2 separate regions of the Homo sapiens genome follow, and region 1 is linked to region 2. Evidence: fine-mapped expression QTL. A gene starts in region 2. The other region holds a variant in brackets. All regions are shown on one strand. Distances are from middle to middle.

Region 1 (8,323 bases), 80 kb before region 2:
GTGATTACATATGGTTCAACTTGATATATATTCATTGTGGTAGAAAACTAGAGTGCACAGGAATAACTGAACCAGACAAAGCCCTCGGGAGCCTCCGGGGAACTATAAGGCAGGCAGACCGACCTTCCCCACTGAATCTGGCATCCTGGGCGCTGCACTGCCCCTCTTCCTTGTACCAGCACTGCTGGGGCCCTGGTGGCCTATCTGTGCCCAACATGTGCAGTTGATCCTTGATGCCTTGAGCTCTTGTAAGCTCGACTCTGGAAGGCACAGGAGGGCCACTGTCCCCGCTCTTGTCGGGTATCCAGACCTAATAGGGAGATCAGATGGACTCACATCTAGAGAAGCTGGAAGGTAATGTAGCCCAAGCTCCTGGGTTCAAATCCCAGCTCCACCAACTGCCAGCTGTGTGACCTTGGGCAGGTTATCAGACCTCTCTCAGCCTCTGTTCCTTATCTACAAAATGGGCACAATAATACCTTCCTTTATATACAAAGAGGATATATGCTGGATCTTTAAAGAGCAGGACAATACATGACTCAAAGCTGCTTATACCACTTAGGTCTCCAAGTGCTTCCGATGGTCAGGAGGAGGAAGGGTCATTTTGAATGAGGGAGGTCTGGGAAAGCTTCCTAATGGAGGGGAGGGTTTGGTGTGGGGCACTGATATAGCTGGCAGAATTTGGGGTAAGCAGAAAGGAAGCACCAGAAAACCCTCTGAAGCAGAAGGAAAAGCAAGATTTTTTTCTTAATCAAAAAGAAATGAAAATCATCAAAGAGGAAGAAATCATGATCGGCAGCCTCAGCTGTTTCCCCCAGCCCAACAGCTGGCTCAGGCTCCTTAAACTAATATTTGCCTCTTGGCCCCTAGCAGCCACAGCTGAGGGTAAATATTGGTTTAGCCTGGGAAGCAGAAGGCCCAGATGGCAGTGTGGTCCTCGGCTGGGGATCACTCATGCTCAGCACCTCCAAGCTGAGGCACACCCTGGATAGGGGACCTGACCTAGGCCCCTATCTCCAGGGGGCCTGGAGAACCCACCCAGCAGCACATGACCCTTGGAAGCCCATCCTGAGAGTCTCCATACAGCTCTCTCCTCAGTAGGCAGGCGTGGGTCTTTTACCAAGACCTGGGAACCTGTGCATGGCAAGGGATGGAATAGAATGCATAAGCCCTCGGGAGCCCCCACCTCATCCCCTCCTAGAACCCTCCCGGACCCAGCCCCACCATTTAGATGTGTTGATAGCCTCCTCCCTCTGACCTTACTCCCAGATCAGCCTGAGAGATCTGGGTTCCAGGCCTGGCCTGGCTGATGAGCAGCTGGGAGAGTTTGGGCAGGCCTCTCCCCATCTCTGGGTCTCATACTTCTCCACTGTCAACCAGCCAGTCCCTCTTACTGAACAACTTGACAGCACAAAAGCTGCTGGAAGCTTTCAGCTCTCATGGCTCTCTCCCCTGTGATGCATACACATACCCACACCTGTGCACACCCCTCACCTCCACAAGTCACCCACTACCTTTCTACCTCATTCCTTCCCCTCCTGGATCTGCTCCCCTACTGACCGCCAATTCCCCACCTCTGCACCTGTGGACACCCCCCTGTCTGACCTAAATTGTTCCTCAACCAATCCATTCTTTTCACCTCACTTAGTTCCTGACTTAAAACTTGTCTCCTACAGGAAGTCCTCCTGGATTGCTCTCTAGCTGCACTCCCCTCCCACACATACACACAGTTTTACTCTTCAGGTCACACTTGATTGCAGAATTGAACTTGGGCCACCTTGCATCAGTTATATGATGTGTCCCCCAGGGAAAACATTATTCCAGGAGAGGGGCTGGGTTTTTGATTCTTCTGTCTCCCACCTGCCCCCGCTTAGTGCCTAGGCAGTGGTAGGCACCAAGGGATGCTCTGGAGCACCCTGTAAGTGGGCTCTTGGCCCGCCAGCCAAGTCCTGCTGGGACTCACAGCTGCTCTTCCTGAATTGACATTTCTGAGAGGAGCAAGGAGACCTTGAGATACTGGGATAGGAGCTTCTTTTTCCATGTATTAATCACCCCATAAAACCTGTGTTTATTTAGTTGCTGGCGGGTCCTTCTCCCTGGAGGAAGGAAGCTGTTATTCTTGACGATACCAGCCTGGGCTTGGGCCAGGGCGCCCCAAAGAAAGAGGTGATCTGCAGAACTCCAGCATAACAGGGAGGAGGGCCTGCTGGGGCTGTGGCATGGGCACCATAACAGGGAGGAGGGCCTGCTGGGGCCATGGCATGGGCACCATTGTGGGCTTGGATTCTGGCCAGGGCAGGGAGGACCGTCCACTGGGGAGAGACACCAGCCCCTGCCTCCACTCTGTCTGGGGACACAACCCATCCATGGCCTGACCTGCTTACCTACTATGTGCCAGCTACCCTGGGAAGCCTCTGGTCTAAGGAACAAACACAGAGCAGGTAAGATTGGGAGGGCTTTGACCACAGGCTTCAGACAAAGGGGGCAGGGGCAGGCCTGGCAGAAAATCCCCAAAGATCAGACATTGGTTTGGGGGACAGTCACCCCAGGAAAGACTGGCCCAGCCTCAGAGCCACCAAGATGGACAGCGACTTTCTTCAGAAGAGAGACAGCAGCGGGGAGAAGGACACCAAGACCAGGGAAAGCAAGAAGGGTGAGAGGATCTAGGTCAAGGGAGAGAGAAAAGCCCAGAAAGATACAGGTGCAGTAAAGGTGCAGGTGATGGAGAGAGGGAGGGGCGGGAAGTGGGGCGGAGAGGAAAGAGAAGGCAGGGAAGGAAGCTGATCCTGAGGCTACCTGGGGTAGAGGGGAGTATCTCAGAGGACAGGCAGTGAACGAAGGTGGAGAGATCACGCCCACCTCAGGAGATCTCTGGATGAATCTCTGTGTCTCCCTCTCTCTCTTTACCAAAAAAAAAAAAAATTCAGGAAGAATAAATGAAGGGATATCTCAATCTGCCAATTGAATTTAGGGGCCATAATCAGTGTTTGAAAATACCCAGGGATTATGGTGATTTACGGCTGGGACGGAATCCGCTGGGGCCTTAGCCTTATCGGGTGTGCAGAGAGGAGCCTGTCAGGAACTCCAAATGCAACTGAAAACACTGCGTGCAAACCCATTTATAGTCACAGGGGGGATGGGGCTGGACCAGGTCAGGCCACCTGGGCTCTGGCCCAGGATGGGCCCTTCAGATTATTCTCCAAGCCCTCCTCAGCCCCTGAGGGTGGGAAGCCCGTCTGTCGTGTTCCACTTCATTCCCATGTGCCAGGGCCCTCCTGGAACTTGTAGGCCCAGCCCAAGTCTTCTCTTCCAAGAAGCCCTCCTGGCCTCCATCCTCCCCCACTGACCTCAGCCTCCTCTGACTTCCTGCCTCCTTTTATGTTTAAACCAGCTGGAGGGTAATGGGAAAGGTGTTGCTTTTGGCATCAGAACACCCAGTTCAAGTCCCAGCTCTGCCACATCCCTACATGGGCAAGCCAGGCCTTGCGTGGGCCTCAGTTATCTCCCTGCCAAATGGGGATAAAAAACACTCCCTGTGGGGCCTGCTTCAGAGGGGTTAAATGAGATAACTGGATAGAAACCATCTCGGCAGATGGAAGGCATCCCATGACCACAGCGGTTAGTGATTTACTGGCTTCTCTTGGGTTGTGCCCTGAGCGCTTGCATCGTCTGGAGTGTTTGCTTCATCTCCCTAACTTCCCAATGAGCCTGGGTTATCTGTGGGCAGGGCTGGGTTGCCCTTGGCCCCCACCCACCTGCCGTTTTCTTCATCTAACAACGCATCTGCCCTCCCATTCGTCCCCCACCCTGCCCCTG[A/G]CTACTCTCCCCTACCTACCCTGCAAATATTCCTCCACGTCCTCTGCAGGTCAGGCAGAAGCCTCCACTCTGGAGAGCAGCCCGACTGAGTGAGACGTGGATTCTTCCCCATCTTGCAGGGAAGTGGACGTATGGACGGACCAAGGCTCTGCGATGCTCAGTACTGAGAGAAGCACCAGCACCACTTGGTGGCACACAAAGATGGAGAGAAGAATTCCGCCCAGGAAGGTTTCAGGGAGGGAGGGGGCTTTGGGACTGGCCTTGAAGCCAGAGTGGGGACTGTGAGGGAGGCCACTTTTTGCTTAGGGAAAAGCAAGAATGTTGCCCCACTGCCCTCACCTGCCCACCCCTCAACAAGACTGTGGCTTTCTCAGGAGCAGAGACTTTGTCTTCCACCATGTGGTTAAGTCCTGGGCTAAGTCAAAGCCTTCACAACCATTATACAGGTGGGAAGCCTGAGGCTCAGGCAGAAGTGGTCAGGTTAGAGCTCAAACTCAAGCGCTGGGACTCCAGTGCCTTGAAGTGTGGGGCCCTGAGGATACCAGAGCAGCACCAAGGCATTCACTTGAGCCCTGAGTGAAGAACTGTCCTCCCCAGAATGGGTGGGGACAAATGACAGCCACTGACCCCCTACTGTGCATCAGCTGCTCCTCAAAGAACCCCGAGAAAGCATTTAGCCCCACGTTACAGATGAAGAAACTGAGGCCCCACAACTAGTACAGCGTGAGGCTAGGATCTGCCGGTCTCTGTAGCTCAGGGACATGAACGCTGCCCTTTCTGCCCCCGGCTGCAGGCACACCCCTTTTACAGAGAAAATGCAAAGCACCTGGGCTCCCTTCTTCAGTCGCTGAGACCCAGAACTGCCCAGTTCCAGGCTCTTAACATGTCATTGTGAGTGCAGAAACACTTTTGTTGAGGTGAAAAACAGAAAGTTCCCAAACTACTAGCTAATAAAAACAGCTTCCTGATGTTTGGAACTCAACAAACAGGCTTCTGACTCATTTCTTTGTTTTTACTATCACTGACTTTTTGCTCAAAAGTGTTGTGGACAGAAGAACTTCACTGTTTCTAGGCTCTGAAGTCAGAAAGGGAAAAAAAAAAAAGGTTTTCAACCACCTTCATGGCCTCTTTCTCTGCAGGGAGAGGCGGGTAGAGATGGGAGACGAAGGAAAAAGTGTTGCTTGAGCATATACTTGGTACCCGAGACTGTGCTGGGCACTTTACTCACAGCCTCCCTGATGGAACTTAATCTTCCCACCAACCCATTTCACAGCTGAGGAAGCTGAGGCTTGCATAGCCTCTGCCTGGAGACAAAGCCAGTTTGCCGATGGCCTGATTTGTACCCAGAGTCTATGTGTGCGCACATGCACTTGAGTGCCTGTGCACAAGGAGAGCCAGGTGGGAAGGATCCTGGGCTGGGAGTCAGGTGACCTGAGTTCTAGTCCTACCTTAACCACCAACTTACTGTGTGACCCTAGGAAGTCGGAGATTCTCCTGTCCTCTTCCGGCCCCAGTACTTGTGCCATTGCAGGGAAGCCTGGCCCCTGAGCATGCCAGGCTGCTTCCCGAGGCTCCTCCTCCTTGCTCTCTCACTGTCCTCAAAGAGCCTAACTTACGCTGGGGGCCAGGGAGCAGCCAAGAGTCTTAGCTCCCCCAGTGCCTTCTGCTCCTGGATCCTACCCTTTTATCCAACATCCCTGCAAAAGGCACTGGGGTGGGCTTGGAACCCCGTCTCCTGGAAGGCTGCAAAGCCCAGGGGCTGACAGCTGGCTTTAGAGCTGGAGACTCAGGGCTGGCTCTACCCCTCAACGGCCATGGCTCCTGGGACCATGATGTAATCTCCCTGGACTTGAGTTTCTGCCCAATGAAGGGGTCTCCCTCCCAGGGTTGCTATGAGAACAGGCAAGAATCAAGTGCCTTGCACATAGTAAGTGTTCTATGAACTGTGGTTGTGATGATTAATTTAATTACTTCCTGGGGTGGTGGTCTTTGAGGTCACCATTTATGATTGTGAAGGTTGCATACTGCCCAAGGCACCACCTGAGAGGCTGCAGAGAGCAGAAATCACACCCAGGTTCCACTGCAAAGCCACGGGCCTGGAGGAAAGGAGATCTCTGCAGTTCATGCCAAGGTTCCCAGGGCTGCCCCGGTTCCCCTTGGCACCAGTCAGAGAGGGGTCCCTACGCCTGATGGGATTGAACAGTGCCAGGCTGCAGTGCCCAGAGGCTGAGGGGTGTCCCCTGCACCAAGGGGCCGGAGGGGCAGGCACTCACCAAGCAGCTGGACGCCCCGCGTGAGGCCGTAGACGTCCACCAGGGCCCAGAGCGGGTCGGCCGTGCGGACCCCGCTGAAGAACAGCATAACAGCCGAGTCGTTGATGCGGTGGAAGACACGGCCCTTCTTGTCCACCCAGAATGCGATGATGTTGCCCTCATTGGCAAACTCCTCAGGCAGCGCCTTGGCCCAGAAGCCACTCTGGGACACCAGGTCGGGGCAGGCGTACTTGGGCAGCGAGTCAGGGTGGATGCGGGACGGGTCCTTGCTGGTGAAGCCCAGCCGCAGGGCCCCGCTCCAGCAGCACTGCTTCTTGGTGATCTGGGTGGCAGGGGGTGGCCTCAGCCCACCCTCTCCCACTTGGTCAATCAGACCAAGGGCAGCCTCCCTGCGGTGGACTCCCTGGAGCATCCCACAGCAGCCTGCCCACCATTCCAGCACAGTTCCCTCCCAGGAGCCCTCCCTGCTGGGAAGACAGCAAGGGGTTCCCACGGCCACCGCCCTCCCGGTTCCTTCCTTGTCACACAGGGAGGTTGAGAAAGGCATAAGGAAGAGGGAAGAGGGTCACCAGAGAGGAAAGGCAGGGGCAGGGTGTGGTGCTGGGGGTGGCAGCAGGCAGCGGCTGAGGGGCAGAGTCCAGAGGCCCAGGGGATGCCATGAGGGGAGCAGGAAGCAGGAGGCGGGGGCGGGGGCAGGGGGCAGGCCCACCTTCAGCCTGACTTGCTCGTAGATGAGGACCGGGCGGTTGCTGAAGGTGATGGCGTTGCAGAAGCTGGCCTGCCTCTTGACAGCCTTGTGGCTGAGGTCCATGAGGATCTGGGAGCCCTTGGTGTGCGGGTGGAAGAGCAGCGGCGTGGCTGGGAGCCCCCCGCTGGGCAGCACTGCCGGACAGTGCTTCTGCTTGTGGTGGCATCGGTGAGAAGTGACGGGGAAGGGGCCCCCGATAGAGTCTGCAAAGGAACAGGCCACGGTGTCAGAGAACTTGGCGGGTCCAAGAGCCAGACCAGAGTCCCCTAGGGAAGGGCAGAGGCTGGGCATGACCAGAAGTCACCCAGAGCCCAGTTCTTTCACCACTGCCGCCACCCCTTGCCACCATCCTTCTGCCACCATCTCTCACCATCTCCCACTCCACCATCTGCCACCATGCTCTACTGGTTCACTATCCACCACTTCTCACCTCGGCATTCTCCATCACCTCCCACCCCCACCCTCTCCCACCTCCTCTCCCCACTAGTATTTACCACCCTCTGCCTCTCACCACCTACCATGGTAGCACATCACCTTTACTACCACCCTCTACCACCACTCACTGGCACTCCACCATCCTTGGTTTGTTTATTTTATTCAATAAATATTTATGACATATCTGCTGAATACCAAGCTCTGTCCTGAGCACTGGAGACACAGACATGAAACATACATGGATCCTGTCCTCGGGGCTGTCACTAACTGGCTCTGTGACCTTGGGGAAGACAACACTTCCCTCTCTGGCACAATGGGCGGCCTCTACTCTGTGGCTCCAAGACAAGTCTCAGCAGCACAGGCAGCATTAATTAATACACAGCCTCAGGGGCTGGGGACTCTGGTGGGGCCCCCAAGATCCATGCCCAAGTAGAGCCCGCCCATCCTGTCATCGTGGGGAAACAGAACCGTGAAGAATGGAGAAGAGGGTGGAGCCGTAGAAAGCCACAAAATGTGACAGAGGCCTTCTGGGATGTTTCAAATTTTGGTCCTCCAAGGCAGGAATTTAATGATGCAAAGAGCTCGGCATTGGGCCTGCCTCCCCAGACCCTTTCACTCCCTAGAGGAGGAGGAGCAGCTTCCAGGAAGGAGATGGAAGACAGGAAGAAAAGGGAGAGGGAGAGGCCCAGCCCTCTGTGTTGGCTTTGGTCTGCATCCCTCTGTACCACTTTGCATCTCCAATCCCCGCTTCTCCAGAGGCCCCAGACAGCAGTCTCCGAAGCCCCAGGCCAGCCAGACACCCTGTGCATGAGCCCCCGGGTCTCTCTAGAGCAGCTTCCTGCCTGCCAGGCTCACTAGGAGAGGGTGGCATGAGGAGGAGTTCACCTTGTCCTCACCAAGGAGACAAGACGGGAATGGCTGGGCAGCGCAAGAGCTTTGGAAGCGGTCAGGCTATGAGGGCTGGAAATGCTCAGAAGAGCCCCAGACAGTCTGGAAAGGCTGCCTGGAAGAAGCTGAATGGCCTCTGGATAGTGCAGAGGAGGGGAAGCCA
Region 2 (8,323 bases):
ATGGGAGCTCCTCGGGCACTGCCTGTTGGTTCTAAGCCCAGAGCTACACCGTGGACCTCTCCCCTGAACACTCCTAGACCAACGCTGTTCAGAACCCAGTGGGAATCACCAGCAGCAGAGTGGGGTCAGTGTGTTCCCAGGAAGAAGACCAAAGTCTATCACCCGAGAGGCGATGGTGGGGTCCCATGTCCCATGTCATGTCAGCCTAACAGCCAGACCAATCTTAGATCTCCAATCAGTCCCAGGATCCCCATTATACCAGGTCCCTTCCAGTTGTTTTAATTAAAATGGTGAGGAATCAAGAGACTGAAATTATGTAAGGAGAGAAAAAAATCAAGACAGTCACTCCACCCCTACTCCCAGCAAATTTCTGGATGAGCACTGACAAGAATTAGAGATGAATTCAAGCTGAGTACAGACGCCATCCCAGCAGAACTCTGGCTAGGCAGTTAGCATCACAGCCTATCAGGTCAACACCAACACAATTAGAATGAACTTCTGGCTGACCACTGATATACCAGAGAAGACTCGTAGGTCAATGCTGATACATTTAGAAGAGAATTGGGAATAAACACTAAACAATTACAGAATAAAGGTGATGGCTCTATTAGGGTAGAAAGACGGGAAGAAGTCCTTAGAAGTCAAGCTGAGAAGGAGGATCAGTGGACCTTGGGTGAAGGACAGAGCCAACAACTGGCGGCCTTCATGGGTACCTTCTGTCCTTCATTTCAGGCTTAGTAGGGGCGGGATCAAAATTCCCATGGTCACCTACAGTGGTGTGTGGATGGGGCCCCCACTCCTGCCTTCTGCCAAAGACCCTAGCCACAGAGACCTCAGATCCCCACAATTCCAAATTTTAGATTAAAAAGATGCAATTAGTTGGGAGCTCTCTGGGTTTCCACAGAGTCAAGGATGGAGCAAGACCTTCTCAGGAAGATAGTCTGTGAATATTAAGGGCCAACTAACCCCTGCCCCCAGCTAACCCTTGCCCCCTGAAGGACAGGGCCAAGTTTTGCCACTTTAATTTGGGCAAATAATTATTCTTTTCCCTCATTATTCTCACTTGCAGAGAAGGTTGAGCTGAACGATATTCATAGGTTCATTAGGAATCTGTTTCCAATGCTCAGAAACAGTCTTCATACTTGCTAACACTGATAGCTTATTTCTGATTACAAAAATAATACTTCCTTATTATAGAAATTTTAGAAAAGAGCAAAATATAAAAAAGAAAAAATGCAATCCCATATGATCCTATACCCAGAGGAAATAATTGTTAACCCTTTGGAAACTTTACAAGCATTTTTGCTTGTTTTGTTTTTGTTGGGGTTTTTTGCATTCACACCACTTTTTAAACAAAATTGGGATCATACAGTCTTCACAACTTTGTATTCTGTCGTTATACTGTGAGCATTTTCCACAGTCATCAACTATTCTTCACAAATATAATTGTAATCACTGCATAGTACTCTACCAAGAATATATACCATGATTACTGAGCATTTAGGTTATCCACCTAGTATAAATAACACTGCCATGAACATCCTAGCCTAGTGCCATAAGTATATATTCCTGCATCTCCACTTCCTTAGTATCAATTCCTCAAGGTAGAATTACAAGGTCAACAAACTGATTTTTTTTTTTTTTTTAGCAAGACAGAGTCTCGCTCTGTCGCTCAGGCTGGAGTGCAGTGGAACGATCTCAGCTCACTGCAACTTCCATCTGCCAGATTCAAGGGATTCTCCTGCCTATCTGCCTCCCAAGTAGCTGGGATCATAGGCACGCACCACTATGCCCGGCTAATTTTTGTATTTTTAGTAGAGACAGTGTTTCGCCATGTTGGCCAGGCTGGTCTGGAACTCCTGACCTCAAGTGATCCACCTGCCTCAGCCTCCCAAAGTGCTCGGATTACAGGCGTGAGCCACCGCACCCTGCCAACAAATTGATATTTTTAAAGTATCTTGACATGTATTGCCATATTAATTTCCAGAAAGACACAACAAATCCACTGATTTTCCTGAGCCAAGTGAAAGCTGAAGTTCTGAAAGAGCTGGAGTATTAGAATGCAGGACAGTGGTCCTATCTCTCCTCCTCTTCCCTGGTCTTAAAAGTTAACTGTTCAGCAAAAGAAGGGACAGAATTCCAAGTCAAAAGATAGGGGTCTACAGCCTAGCACCTAGCGCCGAGGTCTGGCTGGCTTTGGGAACCTGAAGCAAGCCTTGGTTCTCCTCATCTGTAAAATGGGTATAGTGTGATTAGCTCTGCTCTGCTGACTACCCCAAGCAGTGTCCATGCTCACTGAAAATGTGTTTGAGAAAGTTCGATGCCTTGTGTTAAAGGGCACTATTGTTATCCTTCTCATAACCTGAGGAGCTTAGGAAGTGGGGTATTCTTTCTGAAAGCCCAAGGGCTTCCCTTCCTGGCTTTTAGCCATCATGCCCAGGACAAGTGCCACTGGTTCTGAGGTGACAGAAAAGCACCTTCCGGAAGGAATTTAGTAGGGTCTGAGGGCCCGGGAGGACCCAGCAGTGTCTTCCAAAGGTCAGAGACAGCATTGGAAGATCCAAGACAGGAATGGCAGGCTCCGAATGGGGAGACTGGGCCTAGGGCCACCCTGAGGGTGCTGAGTGGATCTGGGGAGGTGAAGAGCAAAGACATTCCTAGTAAATGTCCCTCTGTTTCAAGGCTCCCAGACCCTCTTTTCTAGGGCTCTGACTGGATATCTGGTCTTTGGGAAAACCAGAAATCAAACTAATTCAATGGATGCAAAAACCCAACGGCTGCAAAGGACCCCAGGAACCAGCAGCTCTGACCCTTTCTTCCAGGCTGCTGTAATCCTGTCCTGAATTTTTAAAACCCTCCCATTGGAAATGCAACTAGTGCTCCCAGCCTGGTCTCTCCAGCCCTAGGGCCGATGGAAAGGAGACCCATCGAGGTGCCTCCCTGGAGACACGGACGACCCAAGCTTCCCTCCTCACTCCCCACTCCCCTATCGACCTGGCAAACATCCTTTCCCATCTCTTCAGGCTCGCCTAAGACCATGGCCTGAGGGGACTCCAGTGACGTTCCCAGTGCCAGCAGACAGAACTGCGCAGACCCCGCGGGACGCCATCCTCCATCACCATCATCGCCGGCTGCCCTCCACCCCCAGCCCACTCCACGGCCAGAGGTGCATCTCCGGCCTCCAGACACGCACAACAGGTGGCGTCTGCCCGCCCTCCCCAACCACACCTCCCTGGCCCTCCACCTGCGCCCCAGTCCTCCAGCAGCGCTCGGCCGGGGAGCCTACCTTTGAGGTTCTGGGGGTGGCCCCGCGGCGCGCGGCTCGGGTTTCCTCGGGGCAGCGAGGGGATACTGGAGAAGTTGTTACCCATGGCATCCGGCCCCAGGAGGTTCGGCGCTCGCGGGTGGGGGCGAGGCCGGGCAGGCGCTGAGGTGCGGTGTGCGAGTGTGCGCGCGCGGGTGCGCGCCACCGGGGGAGGGCCCTGCTGGGGCTGCAGCCGGGGGCGGGCGGGCAGCTCCTCAGCTTCCTTTCTCTGGACTTCGCGGTCCTTGGCGGGTTCCGCCCGCCACGGGTGTCCTGGCGCAGGCTGGGCTACCTGCCTCCCATGCCCCGTGGCGGGAGCGGGGGCCACAAGCAGGGCCCTGGGCCGGGGCCGGGGACGCCCGGGGCTCCCCGCTTGCTCCCCGGGACGCTAGGGTTCCGGCTGGGGGTGGGCGGCGCGGCGGCTCCGGCGCGCTCCCCCGGGGCCATAGAGTCAGGGTCGCTGGCGTGGGCGTTCGGCGGCTCCGAGGCAGGCTCGGTTACCGCCCCGCGGAGACGGCCGCGGCGGCGATGTGCGTGGCTCCCTCCCGCCCGCGGGTCTGCGTGGAGCGGGGCTCGGCGGAGCGCGGGGCGTTCTGGGCGCTCCGACGCAGCTGGTGTCCCCCGACCGCCGCGGTCCCGCCCGCGCCGGGTCCCTCCTGCGACCGCCGCCCCCGCCCCCCGCCCCGGCAGTCTCCAGGATTCCCTCGCTCCGGTTGTTATGGTGACAGCTGCGCCGGTGAATGAGCGTCTTAGTGACACGCGCGCGCCCGCTAGGCCAGATGTGGCCCCGGGGCGCGCCGCGTTCCCGTAGCCGCAAGCTCTCGGCGGCGCGGGTCGGGGTAAGACATCAGGCGAGTATGGTGGCACCCGGGGCTGGCCTTATTCCCAGCACGGAAACATGGAACTTGCACTTGAAAACAAGGGGAGCAGGGCCGCGAGAACGCCGAGCTCCCCGGATGCGGGGGCGGGCGAGCCAGCACTAATGTTCGGTTTCCCTAGCTCCAGGTACCGGGCCTGGCGCAGAGTGGAGAGCCCAGGGAAACATGTAAATGAGCGAGCGGATGCTTGGATAAAGTAATTGAGATTAGAACCCCGGCACTTGACCCTCCGTTCTCAGCCAGGCTAGGGGCACTAGGGCAAGGGTTCAGAGCAGGAACCCCGGGCAGTCTCACTGATGCACAGATGCCACTGAGGGCCTTTGAATGCCCGCGGACCAGACTCACAAGCCTGGAGCTCTGGCCAAGCTGAGGGAACAGATCTCCGGGACAGATCATCAGAAGACCACCAGCTCTGAACTGAGTGGTTCTGTTAGCTATAACAAGGTGGGGGAGAGGAGCCTCTGCAGCCTATGGCAGTCAAAGAAGGCTTCCTGGAGGAAGGGGGTTTCAGCAAGGGCCCTGCTCATGTGGCTAGTGCCTTCCTGTAGCTCAACACTGCACCAAGAAGCCTTCAGGAAGGGAAACAGAAGTCATTCTTCTCCTTCCTGGACCCGGGGCATCTCTCCTGGTCTATCAGGGATGGAAGATGTTCCAAGGTTCCCCCCAGGGAATCAGACTTCCTGCTCCTCTAAGTCATCTCTAGCTCCCTGCTCTGGCTTCAGCAACTCAGATCCAGAGTCCAGTGAAGACATGGGTGGGCAGGGGGACATCTCATGTATCCTTTTCTGTAATAAAGGTTCTTCCCCCAAGTCTCCATTTGGCAGCTCCTCATTATCTAGGCACAATTCGTGTCCTGACATTCCCTGACTGCCCCAACTAAAGGACCCCCTCCACTGTCAGTCACTTTCCACAATATTCCATTTTATTTTCATCATAGCTTTTATATGGAACTTGTTTACAAGTAGCCTTTCCTCGTTTATCTTCTGCCTCCCTGCTAGAACATAAGCTCTGTGAGGGGAGAGCACAGGTCAGTCGTGTTCACCAGGGTGTCCTTACCCACTGGGGGAATGCCTGGCATGTGACAGATTCTCAGAAAATAATTGTGGAATGCATGCTTCCCACTGTGGGCCAGGAGGCTCCACTGAGATCCCTGGGGGCAGAGCCTCCTGAACCACCCTTTATTTTCCTCTCCTACTCTCCTCTCTCCATCCCCATTCCAGGCATTCTACCCTTAAATGTCTGGGACTCCAGGCAAGCTAGAAATATCTGTGACAGCCACTGTCTCTCTGGAATCTGGAGGGAAAGGCAGCCCCGAACCCGGCCTCCAGCCTCCCAGATGCCCAGGATCACGTGTGCAGGCAGCTGCAGATGGCCACAGCAGGTCAGGGATGGCTGTCTTATTTATGGGCAGTATCTTCCCAAGGCTCACTCCCAGCTAATGACTCATGCATCAGAAATCCACAGGCTCTTAATGGCAACACACTCACACATGTGCTAACACACCGCTACACTATCTCACACACTCACACCTATACAAGCACACACACTTATATTCCCCCTGAAATCTGCCGGAATGAAGTCACTGTGAGTGGCCACTAGAATCAGGCCTTTCACAAGTTAGAACAAATATGAGGACTCTGCATAGTTGAGACTCATCCTGCTAGAGTGTGTTTGAAGTACAAGGGCCTAGCTAGGATTTACAGACGGTGGCTCCAGGGAAGCCTGGTGTGGGCAGGGGAATGGGGGAGGGGATGAGGCCCCAAAGGTAGAGCACAGCAGGGATGTCTTGAACTGCTGACCTCAGGTGATCCACCTGCCTCGGACTCCCAAAGTACTGGGATTACAGGCATGAGCCACCGCGCCTGACAAAGGGATGTCACAGGCCCCACATGGCCTAGACCTGGGGCTATGGGCAAAGCAGGGGAGAGAGGAAGACGTCAAAGGGAAGGAGGGAAGTGAAGGCCAGAGGCGGATGCTCACCTGAGTCCAGAGGCAGCCCAGGTTCTGCAGTTCAGGGCAGCGTGATCCCAGGGAGTCCCAAAGGAAGGTGAGAGGCGTCAGGGACAAAGGCAGGGAACTGAGGGTTGAGGAGCTGATGGGAGTATCAATAGGGCTGGGATAGGATGAGGTAGCCAAGGCATCCCTGGCGCAAAATTGAAGAAGGCGCCAACTCTCAAGTTCATGCAGATACCAAGCTTGCACTTGCGCGAGCCTGGGAATTAGGTCCTCTTATATTTCACGCCCTAGGCCCCTCTCTACCTTCACCCTAGTACTTCAGGGAGCTCTGTACTGGAAGAGGGGACACCACTGTTAGAGTCAACTAGGTCTCTGGCCAGGAAGGGACCTAGAGGAGGTTGGTGTGGCTGCATAGGACTCAGAGAAGTTGAGCGTGGCCCTTCTGAGGAGTCCTGTGCCCCAGCAACTCCTCCCTGGCAGGGACTTAGGGTAGACCCAGCTCAGAGGGTTAAAGAAGGCCAGCAGTCTCCTTACCCCCAGACCTTGGGCAGAACTCAGAGGCCTTCCTGCCATCCTTCCCCAAGGCAGCTCATAGGGGTGGGGTGCCTGGGTGGTGGCTCTGATCCAGAAGACCCTTCCCAGACCCATCCTGGAAGGGAAGAGGAAGAAGGAAACTGCCAGGGAGACTGGGGCTGATGAAGTCACTGTTTTGATGGCTTCAGGGGAAGCTATTAATACCCACAAGGTGATGCTCCAGCACCAGTCACCGTGGCAACACCCACACACCCAGCAGTGCAGATTCTGCGGGCAGTGCCTGAGGGGGTGGGTGTCAGTGCACACGTGTGCACTTTCGCGAACACCTGTGTCCTTGTATGTGCATGCGTAGGTGTTGTGAGTGCACACACAGGCATGCAGGAGAGGGAGGCCCCAGGCAGGGACCTGAGGAAGCTTCCTTCAACAGCAGCTCCACTCCCACCTTCCCTTCCTTCCCTGTTGCTCTCTTCTTGCTGATTTCTCTTTTTTTTTTTTTTATACAGAGTCTTGCCCAGTGGGAGCACAGTGGCACGATCTCAGCTCACTGCAATCTTGCAACCTCCACCTTCCAGGTTCAAGCAATTCTCCAACCTCAGCTTCCCGAGTAGCTGGGACTACAGGCACACACCATCATGTCCAGCTAATTTTTTTTCCTTCTTTTTTTTTTTTTTTTTTTGAGACGGAGTCTCGCTGTGTCACCCAGGCTGGAGTGCAGTGGCGCGATCTCAGCTCACTGCAAACTCCGCCCCCTGGGTTCACGCCATTCTCCTGCCTCAGCCTCCTGAGTAGCTGGGAATACAGGTGCCTGCCACTACGCCCGGCTAATTTTTTGCATATTTGGTGGAGATGGGGTTTCACCGTGTTAGCCAGGATGGTCTCAATCTCCTTACCTCGTGATCCACCCGCCTCGGCCTCCCAAAGTGCTGGGATTACAGGCATGAGCCACCGTGCCCAGCCAATTTTTGTATTTTTAATTGAGATGGGGTTTCACCGTGTTGGCCAGGTTGGTCCCTAACTCCTGACCTCAAGTGATCCGCCCGCCTCAGCCTCCCAAAGTGCTGGGATTACAGGAGTGAGCCACCGCACCTGGCCCTTGCTGGTTTCTTTCACTCTCTACCCCCTTCCCACCCCCTCTCGTCTTTCCCCCTGCCCTTCCTTCTCTGCTTCTTCCCACCCTGGTCACTTTCTCTCCTTGCAACCTCTGTTCTTCCCACCCTGGCTGTCCGCTCCTGCCTGGTTCGCCTCTCTCTACCTCCCTTCCTCTTTCTCTCTCTCCATAGCTTCCAGATCCATTCAAGTCTTGAAGAGTTACCGCGTTGATAAAATAATAGCATATTTAACTGAGAGTCTACTCCCTTCCCTGAGCCTCTGGATACTGAGTTCAGAACCAACCAGAGTGATGACCTTTCCTCAGGCAGACAAAAGTGGGGCGCCTCTAGGCCAAGCTGGACTCCCCTGAATTGAGACCACCCTAGTCAATGGCATGACACCTCCCTCCAGGCAGAGAAATTAACCTTAAAATGGGAAACAGCCACAACTATCCCTGGCTACCACAGGTAGCACCCTCCCATTCCCCAAGTCCCAGCCCATTGTTTCATTTTGTTTGGGTTTTGTTTATTTGTTTGTTTGTTTGAGACAGAGTCTAACTCTA

What was found. PIP is the estimated chance that this variant, and not a neighbour inherited with it, causes the effect. A credible set is the group of variants that fine-mapping cannot tell apart.
Region 1: its variant is the best candidate, but not a certain one, in a credible set for the expression of NEURL1 in subcutaneous fat (GTEx, PIP 0.53).

Annotation. Positions count from the first base shown.
Region 1 is chr10:103,569,589-103,577,911 of GRCh38, reverse strand. NEURL1 (neuralized E3 ubiquitin protein ligase 1) reads right to left here. Exons shown (of 6, transcript NM_004210.5): 2 at 6,799-7,040; 3 at 6,090-6,411. Among named protein-coding and RNA genes, the nearest start is that of NEURL1-AS1, 56 kb to the right of the region's middle. RefSeq lists an enhancer at 8,113-8,323. The variant A/G (reference allele first, on the strand shown) is at 3,817.
Region 2 is chr10:103,489,436-103,497,758 of GRCh38, reverse strand. NEURL1 (neuralized E3 ubiquitin protein ligase 1) reads right to left here and starts at 4,054. Exons shown (of 6, transcript NM_004210.5): 1 at 3,287-4,054. The coding sequence starts at 3,371. NEURL1-AS1 (NEURL1 antisense RNA 1) reads left to right here. Exons shown (of 4, transcript NR_120675.1): 3 at 3,024-3,198. RefSeq lists silencers at 3,376-3,475, 3,556-3,685, 3,696-3,845, 7,075-7,144 and an enhancer at 3,160-3,709.